Linked DNA regions of Homo sapiens: region 1 is linked to region 2. The links come from fine-mapping of genetic effects on gene expression. A gene starts in region 2. The other region holds a variant in brackets. All regions are shown on one strand. Distances are from middle to middle.

What was found. PIP is the estimated chance that this variant, and not a neighbour inherited with it, causes the effect.
Region 1: its variant is fine-mapped to the expression of GALNT2 in whole blood (TOPMed, PIP above 0.99).

What each region holds. Positions count from the first base shown.
Region 1 is chr1:230,150,062-230,158,398 of GRCh38, forward strand. The region is part of intron 1 of GALNT2 (polypeptide N-acetylgalactosaminyltransferase 2); the gene reads left to right. Among named protein-coding and RNA genes, the nearest start is that of GALNT2, 87 kb to the left of the region's middle. RefSeq lists an enhancer at 161-390. The variant C/G (reference allele first, on the strand shown) is at 4,030.
Region 2 is chr1:230,063,383-230,071,719 of GRCh38, forward strand. GALNT2 (polypeptide N-acetylgalactosaminyltransferase 2) reads left to right here and starts at 3,856. Exons shown (of 16, transcript NM_004481.5): 1 at 3,856-4,024. The coding sequence starts at 3,899. RefSeq lists enhancers at 3,072-3,231, 5,586-5,665 and silencers at 3,362-4,171, 4,612-4,671, 8,116-8,296.

The sequences.
Region 1 (8,337 bases), 87 kb after region 2:
GGTGAGGATGGCTGGGTGGGCTTGTGGGGCTGCTGAGGCAGAGACCTAGGAGGGTGCTCTCCATTCCTGGATGCGGAGCCCATGAGTGGCTTAAAAGACATGCACTGGCTCCGCCCTGGGGCCAGGAGAGCCATCGCCTGCTTGGTGACTGCAAAGCTGCCTACCTCCGTGTGCTGCCGTTTTTCTGTACCGAAGCTTCCCTCTTTACCTCACCATAGGAAGCCTGAGATGTAACACTCAGAAGAGGCTTGACAGGCTTGGAATCAAAGGCATGACTTCATACATCACCCAAGGTGTCATATTTCTTCTCAGAAACTTATATTTGGATAAAACAAAAATCCTTTTTCAACCTTTGAAACGGTTTCCAACAGCTGCTTTAAAAAGACATAGTACAACAACTCCTTCCACTTCCTCTTTCTGCCCGCTTTGTTTTTGTCCGCAACCTTTGCAGAGAAGTGAATGTCTCTGTTAGAGTTGGAGTTGGAAATTGGGGAGGGATGTGTGACTTGATTCTGAAAGGAAAGTCTCATCTCTTTGGTAGAGCATTTTTGTTTTGTTTGTTTGTTTTTAGACCTTAAGCTCTACTTATAATTCTGTCTAAGACACCTTTGTGGAGCAGTTGGAGTGCCTGGCTCCTCATTAGAGAATGCGCTGCGACATTCAGCCTCTCCTTGGCCTTCTAGGATGGCGGGAGGCACAGACACACACTCCTTTTCCCACCCAGGGATTTGGCGTTCAGAATGGGGGCTTTGACTGCTTGGCCCTGACTGTGCAGTTTTCTGGATGGAAGCCTGCTGTCTTCTGAGCACAAAGGAATCCATCGTTTTCTTTGCTTCCCTAAGGAATCTATTTTCCCAGTGGCAGAGCAACTTAGAGAATTCCCAGCCAGGGCCACCATTCTCAACTCCTCAGGACGAGGCTGGTGCACCCGGCATGCAGGTGTCTGTAACTTTGTGTGACTTGTTGAACTCTTTCCTATTTAAGGTGCACTACCTGGGTTGCCTGGAGCACAATATTCTTCCTCTTGTGGAAATATGTTCAGGATCTTGTGTGGTGTCCTGGGTTTGATTTTATAGCTTTGCCAACATAATGATTACAGTTGACGATCACCGTGGCCACCGTTGTCTTTTCCCTCCATTCCCCTGCAGCTTTCTGGACCTCCGGGATGTCCTCCTGGAGGGAAGGCCCCTGGAGAAGTGTCCCAGTAGAACGCACTGTTGTGTCACTTGCTCTGACCACCGTTGACATCGCAGCACAGCGCTGCACACCCGTGACAGGGTGATGGTAGAAGATGAGGGTCGGATTGTCCACGTAGTGCCTCCAGGAAGCTCAGGATGATGGCCAAGCCAGATATGTAAGGTGGCTTTGGGGCACAGGATGATGCCCTCGAAGTAATGCATGGTCTAGTTGTTTTGTAAACAGTGCTGTTTCCTGAAGAAGCAATGATTTTCTGACTACCCGGCCTCCCCAAGATAGCCCTGGGAGGAGAATTTCTGATTCTCTCTACAGCAGTGCCTTCTTCTGTAGGATCTCCCCACATGTCCCTGTGCCCACCACGTAAGCTAAGGAAGGAAAGCAGAGCTCCTCAGTTCATTGATGGCTTCAACTACAGATGAACCAGTGTTACAGGAAAGGGGTCCCGATCCAGACCCCAAGAGAGGGTTCTTGGATCTCGCTCAAGAAAGAATTCAGAGCAAGTCCGTAGTGCAAAGTGAAAAGTTTATTACAAAAGTAAAGGAATAAAAGAATGGCTGTTCCATAGACAGAGCAGCCTCGAGAGCTGCTGGTCGCCCATTTCTATGGCTATTTCTTGATGATATGCTAAACAAGGGGTGGATTATTCATGCCTCTCCTTTTTAGACCATATAGGGTAACTTCCTGACATTGCCATGGCATTTGTGAATTATCATGGTGCTGGTGGAAGTGTAGCAGTGAGGACGACCAGAGGTCATTCCTGTGGCCATCTTGGTTTTGGTGGGTTTTGGCCGGCTCCTTTACTGTAGCCTGTCTTATCAGCAAGGTCTTTATGACCTTATTTTGTGCCGATCTCCTATCTCATCCTGTGACTTAGAATGCCTTAACTGTCTGGGAATGCAGCCCAGTAGGTTTTAGCCTCATTTTACCCAACTCCTATTCAAGATGGAGTTGCTTTGGCTCACATGCCTCTGACAAAAGTAAAGCTCTCAGGGGGCTCAGGCTGATGGGTTCCCTTTTACTTCTTTGAATCCCCAGTCGGGCTTGGAACCATGGCCTGTAAGCGCATCCGACACTTGGCTAGAATCTCGAACCTGACTCTTTCAAAGATGAGGGCAAGGTTTTTCAAATTGTAAGTTGTGACTCAGTAGATCATGAAACTAATAGAGGAGAATAACATCAGTATTCATGATGAATAATTAAATAGAAAATACTGGAGCACATCATACATGTAAGAGTAGGTACCCTTTTATGACACCGTATGTGGATGGATGGGCGTGCATGTATTTATATAACGTATATATTTAAATACATGGTTTGGGGGATGGATGTCTACATCAAATTTATTTGTTACTATGGGTTTTGGCAAAAAAGTTTGAAAGCTGCTAGGATAGTGCATAGCCAGGAGGGAAATAAGAAGAAGCTATGAGAGAACTAGATAATCCTTCTCCTACACAGACTCGTGTTTTGTGTGAGTGGGACACTCCTCAGCCTGCGTCCACTCTCAGGTAGCTTCCTCTTTGAACCGCTTGTCATTGTGAGGCAGTGACCATCTGCGCCAGCCCTGTCCTTGGCTCTAACGTGATGTTCATTTGCTCACCTTTCTTGGACTTCCTTTGCTTCCTCAGGCTTTAGCTTCTTGCCCTGCTGCCTGTATCTATGGCCTTCTCTCTGGCTGTGGTTTAGGGAAAATCACTCCATCTTTCTGTGCCTTCAGTGTGTTTGTCCACTGTGAGTGAAGCATAATCAATACTTGGTGACTTGGCTAAACTGCGTTCAGTCCTTCTGAATACTTATTTACATTTTATTTATTATTTTTATTTTTAGAGATGAGGTCTTACCGTGTTGTCCAGGCTGGAGTGCAGTGGCGTGATCATGGCTCACTGTAATCTCAAACTCTTGTGCTCAAGCGATCTTCTTATCTCAGTCTGTGGAGTAGCTGAGACTATAGGCCTGAGCCACTGCCCCTGGCCTGAATACATTTAAATGAGATAAAATTAAATGAGAGAATGAAAATGAATAGGCCCATTGCCATGCCTGAGACAAACTCAGATGTCTGCTAATGATCGGTTCTTTTCTCCTTACATGCGGGAGTGTTTCTGTAGTCAGACTGGACACCTACACACTTAAACAGTCATTGATGGGGGGTCAGCCTTCAACATTTTAAGGGTCTCTTTGCGTTTTTAGTTTTATTTTTAATCACAGTAAGCACATTTTCATGTATTAGAGAAAAAGAAAAAACACCCATAATGCTTTCTGTGTAGAAGCAAGCATTACAGTGGCCTTGGTGGTGTTTTTTGAAAGGGCTGGGGAATTAATTCATCGAGAACATCTGAGGACGCCTTCCAGATTCACCAATCATCAGGCCCCTAAGTACCCTTCCAGCCCCACGCCCCTGAGTTCTTTTCATGATTCCAACCCAGAGGTCTCAGTTGTGAAAAGTTTCTTTTGTCAGACACAGTGAGCTCAGTCTGTCTGGCCGAGGCCACTCCGCTCTTGGAGATGGATTACAGCCTTTGTTCCCACTCCTGGGCCTCCTGGCGTGGCCTCGGGGGCCCCTGGTTGGTGGCACTCACCATTCACTCTGTGGAGGGGTCTGGTGGAACTGATATGTTCATAAAAGCTACTGGTAAAAACAAAACAACAACAAAAAAGCTACTGGTGCCCAGTGCCTCTTACAAACTCTCATGCAGATTTATCGTGTGGGTCTGTCTGCGTGGGTGTCTACCTTATAAAGACTCAGAAATGGTTTCTCTTTTCACCCATTGTTTGGAGAATAATAAGTCTCTGTCAGATTAGCTTCTTGGGGCCTCAGTGCTTTTTGAAAAGAGCTTG[C/G]ATAATCAGTGTCTGGTGAGCTGTGAGGCCAAGAGCATATTGCCATTGTGCAACGGGGATGTGGATTTTGTACATTTTCAATATTTCACCATTCAGTCTTGTCAGAAGTCAAGCTGCCGTCCACCCTGCACTTGCAGTGGAGACATAGGCCCTTCGTCCACAGTGGATAAGTTTTTCTCCACGTGGGCCACATTCTTACTAGAAAAGAAACCCCGGCCCTTTAGCTCATCACCCTCTGCTCTGGCTTTCCCCGAGTTGGTACAGAGCTGATGCCGTTGGTATTTTTAAGAAATAATCTTGAGTCAGAAGGAATGTGCCAAACCGGCACAGGTGAGAGATCTCTGGACCCCCTTATATTTGCCTATTCTGCCCCTTCTGAGAAATTTCTGGGAGAGAAGGTAGTATTATGGGACAATGAAGCCCTAACCCCCAGGACCTCAGAATGTCACTTTATTTGGAGATAAGATCTTTATAGATATAATCAAATTAAAATGTGGTCGTCAGCATGGGCTCTAGTATGACTGGTGTCCTTATGAAATGGGGGATTCAGACAGAGCCAGACACACGTGGAGGGAAGACAGTGACAAGAGAATAGACAACAGGCACCACCTCTAAGCCAAGGAGAGAGGCCTGGAACAGCATCTTCCCCCATGGCCCTCGGAAGGAACAAACCCTGTCGCCCCTTGAGCGCAGACTTCCAGAACTGTGAGAAAGTGTGTTTCTGTTCCTGAAGCCTCCCAGTTTGTAGTACTTTATTATGGCAGCCCTGGCATACTTACTCAGGTAGTCTCTGTCAGGTTATTTATAACTCACCTTATCACATTGGTAACTTGTGGTTTTATCATTTGGCATGACATCCAAGGCCCCTTGCAGTTCTAATATTTACGTACTAGCACTTAAAAAGACTTTCTCTGACCACAGGGTCTTTGCTGGATGGGGTCTTGGTCTGGGGCTGGGGCTTTGGTTTCCAAACATCAGGGTCCTCCCAGATGAGGCTGCCCCGCGCCGCATGCACCCCCCACCCCGTTTCCGCGTGCAGTTTTCTGCGGAAGTATTTCCCAGGTCCTCGGTTTCCCTTCTGTGTGAGAGCGTCACTTTCTCTCACATCTGTGGAGCGGAAGTCCTGAGGCAGTCACCGTTTGGGGCCTGCATGGGGTTGTGAGAGCCCTTGTGCTGGCTCCTGCCCGCCCTGTTCTTCGTTGGCTGCCTAGGGCTCCCTGCAGGTTTTCGCTCGGAGGTGGGCCCTGCCTGCAGCCGCTGACCTCCGGGAGAGACCGGCCTCTCCCTAATTATAGCTCATCTCTTAATCCCGGTCATCATTTCAGCTGGCTGTCCTTGAACTGAAAATTGGAATACAATTCAACCTGTAGCTGTTTTAAAAACTGCCTTATTCAGAGAGGGTCAAGATAAAGAAATTTTAGCTTCTTTCAGGATCTTCCAAAACAGATCAGGAATGACTGAATCAGGACAGGGTCTCCTCCTTTGGGGCTGGGAGGGACAGGGCAGGACTCTCCCAGGACAGTCCCATGGGCAGAGCTAGGTTTTGTGAGGACTGGAGCTTTTGTCATTTGAAGACCATTTCTAAGAGAAAGAGTGATTATAACCCCAAAACTGGGCTCCCAAGTGCATAGCACAAAGGACCCCACAGAAGATCACAAATGGCCCATCCTGACTGGAAGAGAGAGATTAGATTGAGGGCCAGGTCGTGAGGGCACTCTGAGGGTCGCTAAGACATTCGGCGTCAACCTCCAGTTCACTCAGGAGTTCTGAGTGGAGGACAAAAGCCTTGCTTTAAAAGGACTAATTCTGTAGTGATTTTGCCACATGGAGAGGGGAGGGAACTATTGTGTCAGATCAGGAAAACCATGGGATCAGTGCTAAGGGCCTGTGTGGTGGGCTCTGTCTGGGTGGGAGAGACTGTGTCCTGGTCATGGGGCTCAGTCTGTGGGTGGGTGATAGAAGAGTAAAGCTTTTGTGTTTTTAGGGTGGGGAAGAGAAGAGAGAGTCATTGATTTTAGATACAAGTGGAATACCACGTAGACCTGGCCTCTGGGTGGTGATGACCTTCTGGGGTTGATGTCTGGAGACGGTGCGGTTTTGGGATGGGGGAGCAGACGAGGGAGAGAGAGAGAGAGAGAGAGAAAGAGAGAGAGAGTGTGTGTGTGTGTGTGTGTGTGTTTTACAGCAAAGACCTGGATCCTGAATCTTGGGGAGAAAACTCCTTGCATTGTACATATTGGGCTGGTTACATGGCTGAAGTTCACCGTGTCATTTTAGGCCTGTTTCTGGCTTCCACACTGGTTTGCAATGTCATCCTAGGGAAGTCAGCTTGTCCTTGGTAGGATATATTCATTGGTGAGTTCACTCAAGAGACTCCTTTTTGCGTTTCTTTACCTTCAACGTTCGTTTCCTAAAATTGATTATTCCTTCATAAAGTTGCCAGCATTTTCAACATGCTTCCTAGATGCTGGATATTTTATTATCGTTTGTCACGGATCAATTTATTTTTTTGGCCCTTAAACTATCACATTTTCTGCAGTTAAATTTGCTTAACTTTCTAATGCAGGGGCAGAATGTAACCTGCAGGTTGTGGCTTTAGAAAGCAATGTGGAACTCGGGGCCATGGTAAGCAAGTTGGTGGTGGTTTTTTTTAATAGCACATCTCATCCTTTGATGTCAGAACACTGTCTACACACTCTGATTCATTTCAGTCAGTCCCTAAAATGTGAAGATGAAATGTTGGGGAGACAGATCCTCTGGCCTGAGGAAGCTAGCCGTCTTGTTTGGGAGATAAGAAACATCAACTGTTTTGAAAATACTTTGGTTCTATCATTAGAGAGCTGATCAAGTGCAGTAAGAGGCAAGGTCAGACTGGGCTGTATTATGTTTTGATTTGGAGAAACTATCACGAAAGAGGTAACATTGAGTCAGAGCCTGAGAGAATTGTGGAGAATCCCTGCAGGAGTAAATAAGACCATCCCAGGAGGGCTCTCATTTAAGGCCTCGTGTACTGTGGTCATTTGACCTTGGTTCAGATGCCACTTCAGTTTAGATGCATTTAAAAGCAGAGAAAACATTGGAACTTACTGTGTAGTATTGAGTGAGCATTAATTGAGATGTGTGTGAACCATTGAGCATGATACCTGGCGTGTCGTAAGCACCATTATAGCAAACTTATAGAAAGCTGCATTATGTCACTATACACCTAGGGGAGTGGCTTTGGGGGGAAAAAAAGCAAAAATGCCACCAAGTACTGGCAAGGACATAGAGCAGCTGGAACTCTTATCCCTTGCCAGTGGGAATGCAAAATGGTACAACCACTTTGGAAAATAGTTGAGCAGTTTCTTATAAAGCTAAACACATGTTCTCATACAACGCAGTAATCCCACCCTTAGATATTATCCAAGGGAAATGGAAATTTATGTGCTCTTGGGATTCATAATGGCATTATTCATATTTGCCAAAACTGGAAACTACGTAACTGTCCCACGACTGGGGAATGGATGAACAAGCTGTGGTTTGCGTACATGGTGGAATGCAGCATGTGGCGGGATACCTCCTGCAGTGGAAAGGAGACAAGCACGGTTCACACAATGTGGATGGATCTCTGTACATTATGTGCATTAAGAAGCCAGGTCCAAAGGCTACATACTGTATACTTCTATTCATATGACATTCTGGAAAAGGCAAAACTACAGAGAAAGCAGATCAAGGATTGCCAGGGGCTGGAGAAGAGAGTTAACTACAAATGTACTCAGGGGAGTTTTGGAGGATGGTGGCACTGTTCTATATCTTGATTGTGGTGGTGGTTGCATGACTATATGCAGATGTCAAAGCTCCCAGATCTGGATACTAAGAAGAGTGAATTTTACTGTATGTAAATTATACTTTTAATTTAAAAGCAGAGAAAAAAAATCATAAGCCAAGTCAGGGAAGTGAGAAGGATCTTGTTGTATGTGGAGAACCGTCATGGAACAGGCCAGAACTGAGCACAGATCAGGTTGAATGGGTAGGATGAACTGTGACTCCAGAGGCATTGAAAGGGAAATGTTTGCATGGGGCGTGGTGGAACACAGAGAGCCCTCGGGAGGCCCGGGTAGCAGGGGGGCAGGATGAAGGGGGCATTTCGTGTTGTGTGAGGGATGAGTAGCGTGGGGAGATGAGGCCAGAGGTTCCAGCCAGGAACTAGTGCAGTTCTCTAGTCTGTAGATAAGGCCTGAACACAGCAGTTGGTTGTAGGATTCTGGAGAGACTGGAGCTTAGACCTGATTACATTATATATGCACTGTCTTTTCTCAGAGATGGGGA
Region 2 (8,337 bases):
TGTGTTTTGTTTTTTATTTCCATAATCAACACTGGAGGTACATTACAGTTTGTCCTCATGAATTCTAGTTGTTCTCATGAGGTACATTTTGTCCTTGCAGTTTTGACTTTGTCTTTGAAATGCCCCATGTCACATCTAGCTATTCTTCTGATTCCCAGGTCTAGAAACTACAGTGACTTCAGACCTGCCCCATGTACAATGGAAAGACTTCCATAACCTTTTTTCTTCTACCTCTAACATTGTCTAAAGTTTAATCTCTATCATACATCGCTTATTCCATCAAACTAATAATGATTTTACTTTGCAGATCAAATCCTAATGATATACAATTGATAAGTGTTTAGGAAGGGAAGTTTTGGGCTATAAATTGTCCCTCTTCATCTCATTTAATGCTTTTTGGCCTACTCTGTTTTGTTTGATATCAGAATCACAGCACCTGCTTTTTCAGAGTTGGGGTTTCCGTTATGCCTACATTTGAAAATCTTTTATTTTAAAGGGTGAACTGAGCCCACTTATAAATTGTTATATCTGATGTGGGTTGGTCTCAGCTGTGTCATATTGTTTCCTATTATAACTACTGCATCACTGTGCCACACTTACTGTGTTTCTTTCATTATTTGGTATGTATTCTTTGCTATTTTTAGAACTTTTGGGGTTTTGGAATAGGGTTTCCAATATTTGGGAATACATATATTTTGTTGTAGTGATTTTTATTTATATTTTTAATATATTACCCTTAATTCCTATATTTTGTTTCTAACCTTTTAACATCTGGTCTGTCTGTTTTATATGGTATCCTTTCACTACTACCTGCTACTGATATTGCAGACAATGATATTATTCTATTTTCCCTTCGCTCTTCCCCTTCTCCTCCAGTTGTCTTTAGTTGCACCTGTTCTAAGTTTATCAGAAAGTATAATGTATATACACTAGTCTTTCACCTTCTGAATATACAAAATGCTCTCCATTAGTCACTCTGCTGGCTTCCTCAGCTGTCTCTTGGTTGGAGGAAGCTCATTCTCTAAGATTCCTCATGAAAGGCCCATGTGAGTCACGTTCTCTGAATTTTTGCATTCAGGTCATATCTGTTTGCCTACAACCTTGACACTTGAGGGCTGGGTATAAAAATCACTGCCTGGTACTTTTTTGTGTGTGTGTCATGGAGTCTCGCTCTGTCACCCAGGCTGGAGTGCAATGGCATGATCTCAGCTCACTGCAACCTCTGCCTCCCGGGTTCAAATGATTCTTCCACCTCAGCCTCTCGAGTAGCTGCGATTACAGGCACCTGCCGGCTAAGTTTCATATTTTTTTTAGTGATGGGGTTTCACCACTTTGGCCAGGCTGGTCTTGAACTCCTGACCTCAGGTGATCCACCCACTCTGGCCTCCCAAAGTGCTGGGATTACAGGCATGAGCCACTATGCCCAGCCTGCCTGGCACTTTTGTTCCTTGTTAATGCTGCTCCACTGTTGCCTGGCTTTGCATGTTGCTGTTCAGAAGTCTGATGCCAGCATAAATTTTTATCTCTATAAGCAATTTGATCTTTTTTGCCTTTAAAATCTAATCGTTTTACTAAAATATATTTAGGAGTTGATAATTCCAGATCATTTCCCAAGGTACATGGAAGTCACTTTTGACATGTACATTTAAATTTTCCCTTATTCCTGGATTATTTTCTGGGGTTATAGTTTTAATATTAATTAGGTTTTATTGTTTAATGTTTGTACTTTAGGGACTCCACTTAACATGTATTTTGGTCTTCCTTTCCTGGCTTTTATTTTAACCTCTTCTCTCTGAACCTTTTTACTTCTATCTTTATATTATTTTCAATTTCTTGATTGTTTTCTTGCCATTCTTCAGTGTCCTTTTACATATTTTCATTTGAATATATTTTCCCTTGGACACCTTGTAATTATTCTTTGTTTCTGGGATAGTTTTTGTCATTACTTTCAATTTCCTTCTTGAATTTGCTCAACCCTTGTTGCATTTCTTCCTAATTTTTGTCTAGTCTGTCTTCAGTTCTTGAAATTTCTTATCCTAGATATGTGTGTGTGTGTGTATGTGTATACAAATACGTGACACTTTGTTCAGTTTGACATGTGGTATTACAATTTTCTTATGCTTCATGGTTTTTATTGTGGGGGTTTTCATCAGCGAAAATGTTATGATTTATTTTTTATCATCAGAAATGTGATTTCTGTTTTCTTTTTGCAGAATCTTTAAATGCAGTTGATTTGATGTTTTTCTGTTACTAGGCATTTTGAGGCAGGGTTCCCGGTTCAAGAGTGTTTTCTTTTATCTGTGTACTGAAATGCAGTTTTTAATAGATAATGTTGGTGTTTGGGGAGGGGACTGGCTGTCTTCTCTTTCATTTCTGCAGGATTTGTAATTTTCCCTTCTGACTTCCTTCTTTCCCTTCATTGTCAGGCCTCTGAAGGACATTATCTTCTTTTCGTATTTATCTGACTTTTTCCCAGAAACAAGGCTCCTTCAAGCCTCTCACCTCTTGTCCCATTTTCTTTCAAATCTCTTCCCTTGATCAATAAGGCACCTGACCTCTGTTCAGTTTTTAGTTCTTGGTGTTGGACTTTCTATTTATAAAGAGGTGACAACCCTGTACTTCACTTAAGTCCTTGGCAATAGTGGAGGGAGCTCAGTTGGAATTTGGTATCTTTTCTTTCTTCTACTTAAGTAATTTAATGTTCAGTTCATGGCATTCTCTCTAAGTAATGCTGAAGGCTTGTTTTTGTTTCGTTGAGGATATGGGTACGGACTTATATCAGGCAGCTGCCATTATCCTCTGACCGAGAAGCTCCTGAAAACATTTAATATATCAAGTTCTAAGTAAAATTTCTGTCTTTCTTAGGAACACTGGAAGCTTTGCGTGTTGCAAGGGCATCACCAAGGTTACATAGATTATGTTACAAGACAGATCGTTTTCTTGTATCGTTAAAGATGCTTAATGTGCTTTTTAAAGAACGCAACGAATGAGAAAGAAAAGATTTTAAACAATATATTATTGCTTTCCTTCTTCCTCATTTTGTGTTTATTGAAAAGAACAACTCTACCATTGATAGCTCTGTCACCCACAGAAAAATGTTCTTTTGAAAATTACCTTCTCAGTTCCTACCAACTCAAAACCTCCACATCTGCCTATATAGATAAATAAAATCGATACCAGCGGGTCAGGAATGTTTTGCTGCAAGATTAGTGAGAAAACTGCAGCAAGCAGCAGCAAAGTCGGGTTCAAGCGGGCGGTTTGCACCAAAAACTCAGGTCAGTTGGCCAATAAGAGCAAGCCCGTTAAGGGTCTGAGGTGGCCCCAAAGACCAAGGCTGAAGAGGTGACAGTCTGGGCAGGAAGCACCGAGGCCACTACCGCCCCCGTAATCGAGAGGCCCCGTGTGCGTGAGCAAGGCTCTTTGCCCACGTGTGCGCGCGCTCCAGTCGGGTCCCGGGGCAGCCACCTGTCACTCACGGGGGAGGGGGCGGCCGGCGGGGGGAGCACGCTGAGGGGCGGGCGGCCGGGGGCGGGGCGGCGCCCAGGCCCTCACGGCGGAGCCCGGCGTGCTGCAGCCATGGAGACGCGGCAGTCCCCTCCCGCGGCCCGCGCCCCGGCCCCCGCAGCCGCCGCCGATTGGTCGCCCTTTGCTCCCTGACCCCCCTCGCCGCCTCCGAGGCCGCTGCTTCCTGCTCTGGTGCCGCGCGGCGCCGCCGGCCCGGGGCGGAGCTCGGGCGCCGAGTGCGCGCCGCCGCCGAGCAGTAGCACCGCGCGGGAGGAGGAGCCGCCGCCGCGCCCTTCCCCTTCCTCCGCTCCTCCCCCGGCCCCCACCGCGCCCGCGGCCGGCCCAGGCAGCACTCGCGAGCAGCGGCGGCCCCGCCGGCGGCCGAGTTGGGAGAATGCGGCGGCGCTCGCGGATGCTGCTCTGCTTCGCCTTCCTGTGGGTGCTGGGCATCGCCTACTACATGTACTCGGGGGGCGGCTCTGCGCTGGCCGGGGGCGCGGGCGGCGGCGCCGGCAGGAAGGTGAGTGGAGCGCCCTGCCGCGGCCGGGCCCCTGCGCCCACCCCCCACCCTGCGCCCCTGTCCCCTGCCCTCTCCGCGCCGCCCCTGCGCTCCTCCGCCCGGACCTCCGCTCGCGTCGCCCGCCCTCGTCCCGGGCCTCCGCGCCGAGTGCCCAGGGCAGGGGTGCACCCGGCCCCTCTGCGCACGCCGGGCTCCGAAAGGGCGGCCCCCGCAGCCTTTCTCTGCCCCCTCTCGTGGACGTCGCCCCTCTCTCTGCTCGTCGTAATTCGAGTCTTGTCCGGCCGCCGGGAGCCCCATCCCCTGCGGTTGGAAGTTTAGGGATGGGGGTGTTGGGAAACACAAAGGGGGTGGGGAGGAGAGGAGAGAGAGGCGACCGCTTTTCCAACGCGTCATGTACAGCAGGAGAGAGGAGTCCAAGTTTCTTTTCAGCCCTTTGATACCAGCGGCTGCAAATCCTCGTCCCTTTCCCCCTGTCACTCCGCGGGGCGTGGGTTCCGTGTTTCTGCCACCTTCTTTGCCCTTTACCTTTGGGGGGCAGGGGCGGCCGCTCCCGTGCCAAGTAAAGCCCCAGGGCCCGTGCGAGCCAGGGGCCAGTGCGCCCCTGCGCCCCGAGCGAGGCCAGTCCCGGCCGTTCCCTTGCGGCCCCAGCGTTACCCTCTGCCCAACCCGGCCCCCGGCCCTCCCGCGCGAGCCGGACGTGGCCTCCTGCGCTTGCATTTTCCATCCCCACTCCCCGCTTCAGGGAGAATCCCTCTTCTGTGGCTGTGTTTTTAACATGCTCCAGGGGCCGAGTGATCTGGCTGTGGGGACCGTGTGAGCCGCTCTGCGGTTCCGCGTCCTCGTGCCGCCGCTCCGGACGGCCGGGCCCTGGGCATTCGGGAGGATGGTGAGCGCCGAGAGGAGCCGGGACAGCGCGGTCCTGCGGCCGAGCGCCGGCCGGGAGAGCAGGGCGTCGGGCTGTGTGCTGGAGCATGCCGGCAGGGGACGTTTGTAGTGTTTTACTGGCTCCTCGGCTTTGAAAGCAGCGTTATCTTTTCCGAATTCCTGTAACCCTCGTTACTGTGACATTTAGTGTCACCGCAAACCCAGAAAATTCTGAGTTAATGGAGATGGACTACGGGTGGTTGGGTTGGAACAAGAGAGTGGTATCCTGAAACAAGCCAGAGGGAACTAACTAGATGAACAGACTTCAGTTCTGAAGTCAGACCCCTAAATGTCCACGCCGGGGTTTGGCTGCTTCAGAGGTTTTTTCTTTGCTTCATTCATTCATTCATAGCCGAAGATGTTAGGTGGAATGGGTGCCTTATGTGGTTTCTGGTAAATTACGTGGATTTGTTTTATCTAGAAGGGCAGAAATAAAGCCCTCTTTCCACGTGCTGAATCGGCCTAGCTTCTGAGCTGACATTGTACTCTTAGCGTTGTTTTTGTAAAAAATGGTATAGGTAGTATATGTACGCGAAGACTTGGTTTATTCTTGAACAGCAAAGAGCATGCAGGCAGCAAAAGCCGTGCAGTCCATTCAGAGATATAATCGTGTAAAACTGGAATGATTTTTAAAACTTTGCTTCCCGGTAAACTGTGCCTTGGCCACTCTGCATAGCCTGGTGTGCTGGTGAGACCTGGCAAAGCTTTCTGCCTTTCATGCAAAGAAAACCAAACACATAAGCCACCCTTGGCGTTTCTCTTTCCTTAGTCTGCCACTTTCATTAGTACACGTGATTAGAAAGAGCAAGCGTGCTCGTTCGCCTCCCGGAGGCTGATTCCTCACTCTGGTGGGCTTCAGTTCCTGGATGGTGTGAGGGGTCTTCCATGCAGAAGTCTTCAGACACTCCTGAAGTGTGTGATTCTTAGTTTGTTTTTTTTTGTTTTGTTTTGTTTTGTTTTGTTTTTTTTAAAGAATTCCTGGTGGCAATATAGACAGGTACGGAGACCAGGTAGAAAAAGTGGGGGAAATGAACAATTAATTACACATGGATTGGTGATTTGGGATTCTATTCTTTCTGTCAACGAACCATAAAATTTAATGCTACCCCTTAGGATGCTTTAGTGATTTGTCGGTTGAGGAAGAGGTGTGTAAATGCAATAGCTTTTGAAATTGCAGTGGAAGACTCATTAACTTCGTGTGGTGGACCCAGGGTTAAAGAGAAGCCTTAAGATGGTTTCTGAAGGAGGTAAATAGAGCCCTGCTGTCACGAATGCCTGATGTATAGGAAAATCGTGTAGTCTTCTTTCTTCCCCAATTGTTTCCATGGATTTAGACACTAGAAGTGTCTCTAAATTTATTTCATTCTCATACCAAAAAAAAAATGTGGTTTGTTTGGCTTGTAAAGTATGGACATAAAAAAAGATAGCGGGCCATGCACAGAAAGGCAGAATTTAAAAGCTAGCTATAGTTTTTTTAGAGATAAGTGGACCTATATTTTTTCTCTTGCCTCATACTGTTCAAGTCAGGGCTTTTATTCCATATTTAGCCAGTTTCTGCACATCCTGACGTTTTTCATAGGGTACTAGGCTGCAGTATTGGGCTTTAGGGATCGTCTGAGGGGAGTCCAACTAGGATTTCTGCTGCTTCAGCAGCCCAGCCCAGGCTTGTCATTGTGTGCCCTGCCTGTTAAGTAACTCATCACAGAACTGTTATTCTCCACTTGGCAAAACCCAGAGAGCCAGCTCACCTCAGATTGCAGGTTTAGTAAACTAAGCAGGAGGGAGTGCTGAAGACCAATCTCAGGCACTGCCGCACAACTCGGGACTCAACACCCAGGCTCAGGACATGTATGTTAAAGCAGTTTATTCAAAATATTGTTTAAAATTATGTTTCATTTACATTTGTGTCCATACCCTTTCCCCCCATATTTTGCTCTTTCCCCCTAAATTGATGATTTGCACTTCAAGCGTGCCTTTCCTTTGAGCTTCTTAAATGCTTTAAAATTTTAACCATGTTAAGTCTCCCCTGGGCTTTGGTACGTTGGCAGTGGATGGAGCCGCAGAAGAGAGGAAGGGATTTCTCTGGAAATGAAGCTGCCTGTGGGTGAAGTGTGGCTGTTTAGGGTGGAAAGGGAAGGGTTTTCTCTCTGCTGTAAGAGTGTGTGGAGCCTGAGACCCCTTGCCTGTGTGCCTGCATGCTGGGAGGTAAGGGACGGTGTTAGTTGAGGGACATGATCCGGAGCCCTGGGAGCCTGTCCACTTTGCACAGTAGCATCACCCTTATTCCCTGAGCTGGCACGAGTCCTGTGGCCCTTGCCCGAGAGTCCAAGGGTGGGGGACTTTGGGTGGGATCTTCTAGGAATCATGCGGGGAGGCGGGCAGGTTATTTCTTGGAACAGTGAAGGACCTTGCCGGGCTAGACCATGGTACACATGGAGGGGAACGTTAGGGTGTAAAGTTGGAGAAATTCAGAACTAAATTGTAACGGGCTTCAAATGCCAAGCTGAACCATTTGGGAACTAGTAATGTTTTTGAGCTAGTAGTAGACATTAAAGGGAAATGGCACAAATCCACTTATTGGCATTGAGTGAGACCTAGCTGTTTACCTCTTTGTGCTTAGTGACCTTCACTGATGCATTGAACCTCTCTGACCCTCAGTTTCCTCATCTTTGCAGTGGGAGTAATCATTCTTACCTCATGGCCTTGTTCGGAGAGTTAAATACTGTTAGTGGGTGCTGAATAACTGCTATCTCTAAAAGAGGAAAATGAAAAAATAAAAGCCTAAATATCCCCTTGAAAGTGTAGTGAACCAGGAATCTTAAGTTCACGGTATTCCTGATACAATTCTTGATTTCTGGAAAATAGTCGTCTTTCTTTTTTTTATCCGTTACCCCCACCTCTGAGATTGATCTGACTGGTTCATTTGGGGTTTGGGCTATGAATCTTAAATGCTGTTAGAGACGGACTTTTTGGGAAGTTGTCCAGACACCATGCCAGCTCTCTTGTACCCAATTGTGGTGTCAGAATGGGGATCCCAGTAGTGGGCAGCCATCGGGAATGTGGGTGGAGGGTGCAGCTTGCCTTGGCGGTTAGGCAGTTGTAGTGTCCAACAGTGGACAGACGTGTCCCTGAACGAGGGGTTCCTGTGGTGGGATCCCAGGTTCTGAGCTCCACTGCTCTCCCTCTGTAGCCCTGCCCCTCTTGTTAGAAGGGCAGGTCGCTGTGATCCCTGGAAGCATGCATGACTTGAGGTGGAGCATGGGGCCCTCACGTGGTTTAATGGGTGCCAAAAATCTGTGAGCATCTTGGTGGATGCGGAGGGGAACACCCATACCACTCCTTGCCACCTATCATCAGTTTGGAGTTTAAAGAAAGTCCACTTCAAATGA